Linked DNA regions of Homo sapiens: region 2 is linked to region 1. Evidence: fine-mapped expression QTL. A gene starts in region 1. The other region holds a variant in brackets. All regions are shown on one strand. Distances are from middle to middle. Region 1 holds the start of RNH1 (ribonuclease/angiogenin inhibitor 1). Region 2 overlaps PTDSS2 (phosphatidylserine synthase 2).

Region 1 (2,903 bases):
CCTGGCTAAGTTTTTGTAATTTTAGTAGAGATGGGGTTTCATCATCTTGGCCAGGCTGGTCTTGAACTCCTGACCTCAGGTGATCTGCCTGCCTTGGCCTCCCAAAGTGTTGGAATTACAGGTGTGAGCCACCGCGCCCAGCCAGAGTTTCATCTTGTTGCCCGAACTGGAGTGCAATGGTGTGGTCTAGGCTCGCTGCAACCTCTGCTTCCCGTGTTCAAGCGATTCTCCTGCCTCAGCCTCCCAAGTAGCTGGAATTACAGGTGCCCACCACCATGCCTGGCTAATTTTTGTATTTTTAGTAGAGATGGGGTTTCACCACGTTGGCCAGGCTGGTCTTGAACTCCTGACCTCAGGTGATCCACCCTTCTCGGTCTCCCAAAGTGTTGGGGTTACAGGTGTGAGCCACCACGCCCGGCCAGAACCACCTTCTTTAAAGATGATCAGGCCGGGTGTAGTGGCTTATGCCAGTAATTCCAGCGATATGGGAGGCTGAAGCAGGAGGATCACTTGAGCCCAATTCAAGACCAGGCTGGGCAACACAGGGAGACCTCTTCTCTACATAAAATACAACAATTAGCCAGGCGTGCTGGCGCCTGTGGTACCAGCTACTTGGGAGGCTGAGGCGGGAGGATCACTGGAGTCCGGGAGGTGGAGGCTGCAGCGAGCTGGGATCGCGCCACTGCAGTACAGCCTAAGCAGTGGAGTGAGACCCTGTCTCGAAAACAAATACCTAATAAAGGCAGTCAGAGGAGAGGTTTAGCAAATTGCTAAAGAACAAATCTGAGATACCGTTAGTTTCCTTACTTGCAATCTTCATCTGCCAAAATGTCAATTCTGTGAATTGCGGACTAGTCAAAAACTTAAAGAAAACCCACTTTTGTGGAGGTGGGGTCGCTTTGCGTTTCCCAGGCTGGTCTGGAACTCGGCCTGCGCCCCTCAGTGCCAGGGCTCCAGGCGACGCTCGGGTGTCGGCAGCAGAGTGGACGCAGGAGCAGCTCGGACCGCGCTCAGAACACTCGGGACGAGGCCGCGGCTCCGCAGGCCTTGCGGGCTGGGGTCCCACGAAACAAAGGCGGCAGCCAGTGGCCAGGACGGGCAGCGTGGTTCACGGGGCCGTGGCTCCCTCGGGGGTCGCGAGCTCGGCGCAAACGAGCCCCTCTACCAAGGTCGCCTAGAGTCGCGACCCCGACATGCGGAGCCGCCCCAGGGGGGTTTCTCCCGGGTCCCTCCTGTCCCGAGGCGGCCGCTTTCTCCGGGGGCCGCGCCCCGCGCCCCAGCAAGGCCCGACCCGCGCCTGCGATTCCGCCCCCAAGGCGCTGCCGCACCGGGCCCCGGCCTCTTCCTCCGAGGATTCTCAGGAATTGCTGAGACTTGCGTGCCAGTGCGAGGCCCACAACACGCACACGCGCCCGCGCCCGCCAGACCCCGCCCCCGGCACCAAGCCCCGCCTACTGGGGGAGACCACGCCCCCAAGCGAGACCTCCCTCACCGAGCCACGCCCCACCAGGCCCCGCCGCTGCGCCAAGACTGTGCTTAGCCGAGCCCCGCCCGCCGGGCCCCGCCCCGACCCCGAGACTACTCCCGCCAGGCCCCGCCCCCGCGCCGAGCCCCGCCCAGTAGTCCCCGCCCACGCACCTGACCACGCCCACGAGCCGGCTCGAACACGCCCGCGCCGCTGACTGGCGGGTGGGGTTGTCGACACGTTCAACCCGTTCTGCTGGCTCGAGAACGAAGTAGGCCGTCTCGCTCTGGGTCTCCAGGCCCGCGACCGTCCGCCAGTCGTCCCGAGGTCAGTAGCTCCAGCGGTGCGTCAGCGTCTAGCCAGGCCTCGCCCACGCCGGCCTTGGTCGGGCTTCTTGTAGACGCGGGCCTGGCGCTATTGAGGCCGTTGCTGCGCGGGCGAGTGGCGCGCTCCCGTGGCGGGGCGGGGTCGGGCGGGGCAGGGGTCCGGGGCTATCGAGGCGGGGCCGAGGTTGCGCTGGGCAGCTGCGCCGCCGGGCGGACGTGGCGCGCCTTGAGGACGTCATCGCGGTGCACGCTCCCCTTTGGGGCTTGCCGGAAGTCCTTGCCCGGGGCGCGGGGCTGCGCCTGCGTGGTTCGTCCTCACGTGGCCGTCAAGCCCTCTAGTGCCTTAGATTCCAGCGAGCTACGCAAGCAATCCTGGCCCAGCCGAGCTTGCTTCCCCAAATCCCGTAATCCTTGACCTTATTCCCCCAAAGAAGCGGCCTCCCGGGAAGGAGCGCCCTGGCGGAGAAGACTCGAACGGCTCCCACAGCCGGGCGTTGGGGGAAAGGTGGGCGGTCTTGGTCGTGCGAGGTCGGGGAGGGAGGGTCCTCCGCTCTCCATTGCGGAGCTTCGCTCCGGGACCACCGGGGGACCGGACGCCGGGCCGCGAAGCTGCCGCCTGGGGCTGCGGGGAGGAGAGCAACATAACTGGAATGGCACTTAGGGGCCGGTGTCAGGGTTGTCACCGGGGTTGGCGGAAATGACGAAGGGGCCCCAGGCACGTCGTGTTACTGGGCGAGGTTCCAGCCAAGGTGCCCACGCGCCTTGGGGGAAACCAGAGGACTTCTGCACCGTTTCCCGAGGACAGTTTGGCAGTGTTTCAGAAGGGCCTTAGAACCAGGCAGGCCCCCTTCTAGGATGGTGGAAAGCCTAAAGATCTGAAAACGGTCTCAAGTGTCGTCTTAGCGATTGGCTGACTAAACCGAATGCAAGCCGGAGACTGCACACGATGTTGCCGTTAACAGTTACACTGGGCCGGGCAGTCAGAGGCAGGCGGATCACCTGAGGTCAGGAGTTCGAGAACAGCCTGGCCAACATGGTGAAAACCCGTCTCTACTAAAAATACAAAATTAGCCGGGCGTGGTGGCAGGCGCCTATAATCCCAGCTACTTGGG
Region 2 (2,903 bases), 43 kb after region 1:
ATTTTGAATACAAGTACTTTATCAGATAGGTGTTTTGTAAACATTTTCAACAGCTTGTGGCTCACCTTTTCGTTCCCTTAACAGTGTCTTTTACAAAGCAGAAATTTTAATTTTTTCAAGGTCTCACTCTGTCGCCTAGGCTGGAGTGCAGTGGTGCTACCATAGCTCACTGCAGCCTAGACCTCCTGGGTTCAAGCAATCCTCTCGCCTCGGTCTCCTGAGTACCTGGAACCACAGGCATGTACTACCACAATTAGCCAATTTATCTTTTCCTAATTTTTAGTAGAGATGGGGGGGGGGTGGTCCTCACTATGTTGCCCAGGCTGGTCTCAAACTTGTGACCTCAAGCAATCCTCCTAGATTGGCCTTCCAAAGTGCTAGGATTAAGGGCATGAACCACCACACCCAGCAGACAATTTTAATTGTAATGAAGTCCAATTGATCAAGTTTTTATTTTCATGGATTGTGCTACTGGTATTTTATTATCACCAAACCCAAGGTCACTATACTTTCTCCTGTGATTTCTCCAAGATGTTTTATAATTGTGGCTGAGCATGATAGCTCAGATGTTTTATAATTATGCCTGGGCATGATAGCTCACATCTGTAATCCCAGCAGTTTGGGAGGCCAAAGCAGGGGTTTGAGACCAGCCTGGGCAACACAGTGAGACTTTATCTCTACAAAAAATTTTAAAAAGTAGCTGGGTGTGGTGGTGCACACCGGTAGTCCTAGCTCCTTGGGAGGCTGAGGCAGGAGGATTGCTGGAGGCCAGGAGTTGGAGGCTACAGTGAGCTGTGACTGCGCCACTGCACTCCAGTGTGGGTGACAGAGCAAGACCCTGTCTCAAAAACAAAAAGAGAAGTTTTATAGCTTCTCATTTCACATTTAGGCTTATCTAGAATCCATTTAGAATTAGGTTTTGTGAGAAGTGTCAGGTCTGTGTCTAGATTTGCACGTGGATGTTCTGTTGCTCTAGCGCCAGTGTTGAAAAGGCCATCCCTTCGCCATGGACTTGCCTTTGTTCCTTTGTCAAGGATCGGCTGCCTGCAGTCGTGCGCGCCTGTTTCTGGGCTCGGTATTTCGGTGCATTTTTGACAGGAAGTCTTGAAATTGTGTAGTTTCTGTGTCCAACTTTGTTATTCTTCAGCACTGTGAGTATATTTATATGCATTATGTTTTATATGTATTACAAGTAAGGATATTTATATTTTAAGTGTATTACATTTATATATGTTACATGTATTTTATTGAGTAAAATGTGTGAAGAGGTTTAATTTACTAAGTTTAAAATGGGATAAAAATGTAATGGACTGGTGAGGAAAGCTGGACTCTCCCCCAGGGTCACCCCCATACAGGCAGATCAGTGAACGGTGCCGTGTCCACGCAACGGAAGCTCCCCAGTGAGCCCACCGGCAGGCACAGCAAGGATGCCGCGAAGCTGCCCTCCAGCGGGAGAGGCCAGGCCGGAGGAGCAACTGCGTTCACAGGAAGCCGGGGCCGGCAGCACAGACCCTGCTCTCACCCAGGCAGATGCACTGGCACTGCCCGAGCCGGGGTGAGGCACTCTGAGCGCAGGGGAGATGCCTCCGCACT[G/T]CCCGAGCCGGGGTGAGGCACTCTGAGCGCAGGGAACAGTGAACACTTTCGCACCCCCATGCAGTGGTGGGCACACGGGGCTCTGAGTCTGTTAAAACTCATCAGCCGTACGCGTGAATCAGACACAGATTATAGTAAATTATAGGTCAATAACGTTGACTCAAGAAAAGCAAAACGGGGCCGGGCGCAGTGGCTCACGCCTGTAATCCTAGCAATTTGGGAGGCTGAGGCGGGTGTACTGTCTGTGCTCAGGAGTTCAAAACCAGCCTGGGCAACATGGTGAAACCTGTCTCTACCAAAATATAAAAAAATTAGTGGGGCGTGGCGGTGCACGGCTATAGTCCCAGCTACCACAGAGGATGAGGCACAAGAACTGATTGAACCTGGGAGGTGAAGGTTGCAGTGGGCCATCACGCCACTGCACTCCAGCCTGGGCAACAGAGCACGACCCTGTCTCCAAAAAAAGAAAAAAAAAAGAAAAAGAAAATCATCCCCTAAGGTGGGGAACCTGTTAGATCCATAAAAAGAACAATGACAGCAAGCTGAATAAAGACACACTAGTTTTATAACTTTTTAACTTTAATAACATAAATATTAATTTTTAAAAATAAGGCTGGCCAGGCATGGTGGCTCATGCCTGTAATCCCAGCACTTTGGGAGGCTGAGGCGGGCGGATCACGAAGTCAGGAGATCGAGACCATCCTGGCTAACACGGTGAAACCCCGTCTCTACTAAAAATACAAAAAATTAACCGGGCATGGTGGCGGGCACCTGTAGTCCCAGCTACTCGGGAGGCTGAGGCAGGAGAATGGCGGGAACCCGGGAGGTGGAGCCTGCAGCGAACCAGGATTGTGCCACTGCACTCCAGCCTGGACAACAGAGCGAGAGTCTGTCTGAAAACAAAAAAATAAGGCTGGGAGCTGCAGTGGCTCAGGCTGTTTGTTCTGGCGCTTGGGGAGGCGAGGCTACACGTTCGAGGCCAACCTGGTCAACATTGACCAAAAAAAAAAAAAAAATTCCAACCTGGCTAACACGGTGAAACCCCGTCTCCACTAAAAATACAAAAACTGTCTGGGCATGGTGGTGGGCCCTGTATTCCCAGCTACTCGGGAGGCTGAGGCAGGAGAATGGCGTGAACCCGGGAGACGGAGCTTGCGGTGAGCCGAGATCACACCACTGCACTCCAGCCTGGGGTACAGAGCGAGACTCCATCTCAAAAAAAAATAAAATAAATAAAAAATAAAATTAAGCCTAATTTCTAGAAGGTATTTTCTTTTCTTTTCTTTTTTTTTTTTTGAGACGGAGTCTCG

What was found. PIP is the estimated chance that this variant, and not a neighbour inherited with it, causes the effect.
Region 2: its variant is the best candidate, but not a certain one, in a credible set for the expression of RNH1 in whole blood (TOPMed, PIP 0.76).

The regions. Positions count from the first base shown.
Region 1 is chr11:506,002-508,904 of GRCh38, reverse strand. It overlaps RNH1 (ribonuclease/angiogenin inhibitor 1), which reads left to right and starts at 1,663. Exons shown (of 11, transcript NM_203387.3): 1 at 1,663-1,792. It also overlaps a transcript of LRRC56 not described here. RefSeq lists a cis regulatory region at 2,309 and an enhancer at 2,225-2,394.
Region 2 is chr11:463,151-466,053 of GRCh38, reverse strand. The region is part of intron 2 of PTDSS2 (phosphatidylserine synthase 2); the gene reads right to left. Among named protein-coding and RNA genes, the nearest start is that of PTDSS2, 14 kb to the right of the region's middle. The variant G/T (reference allele first, on the strand shown) is at 1,594.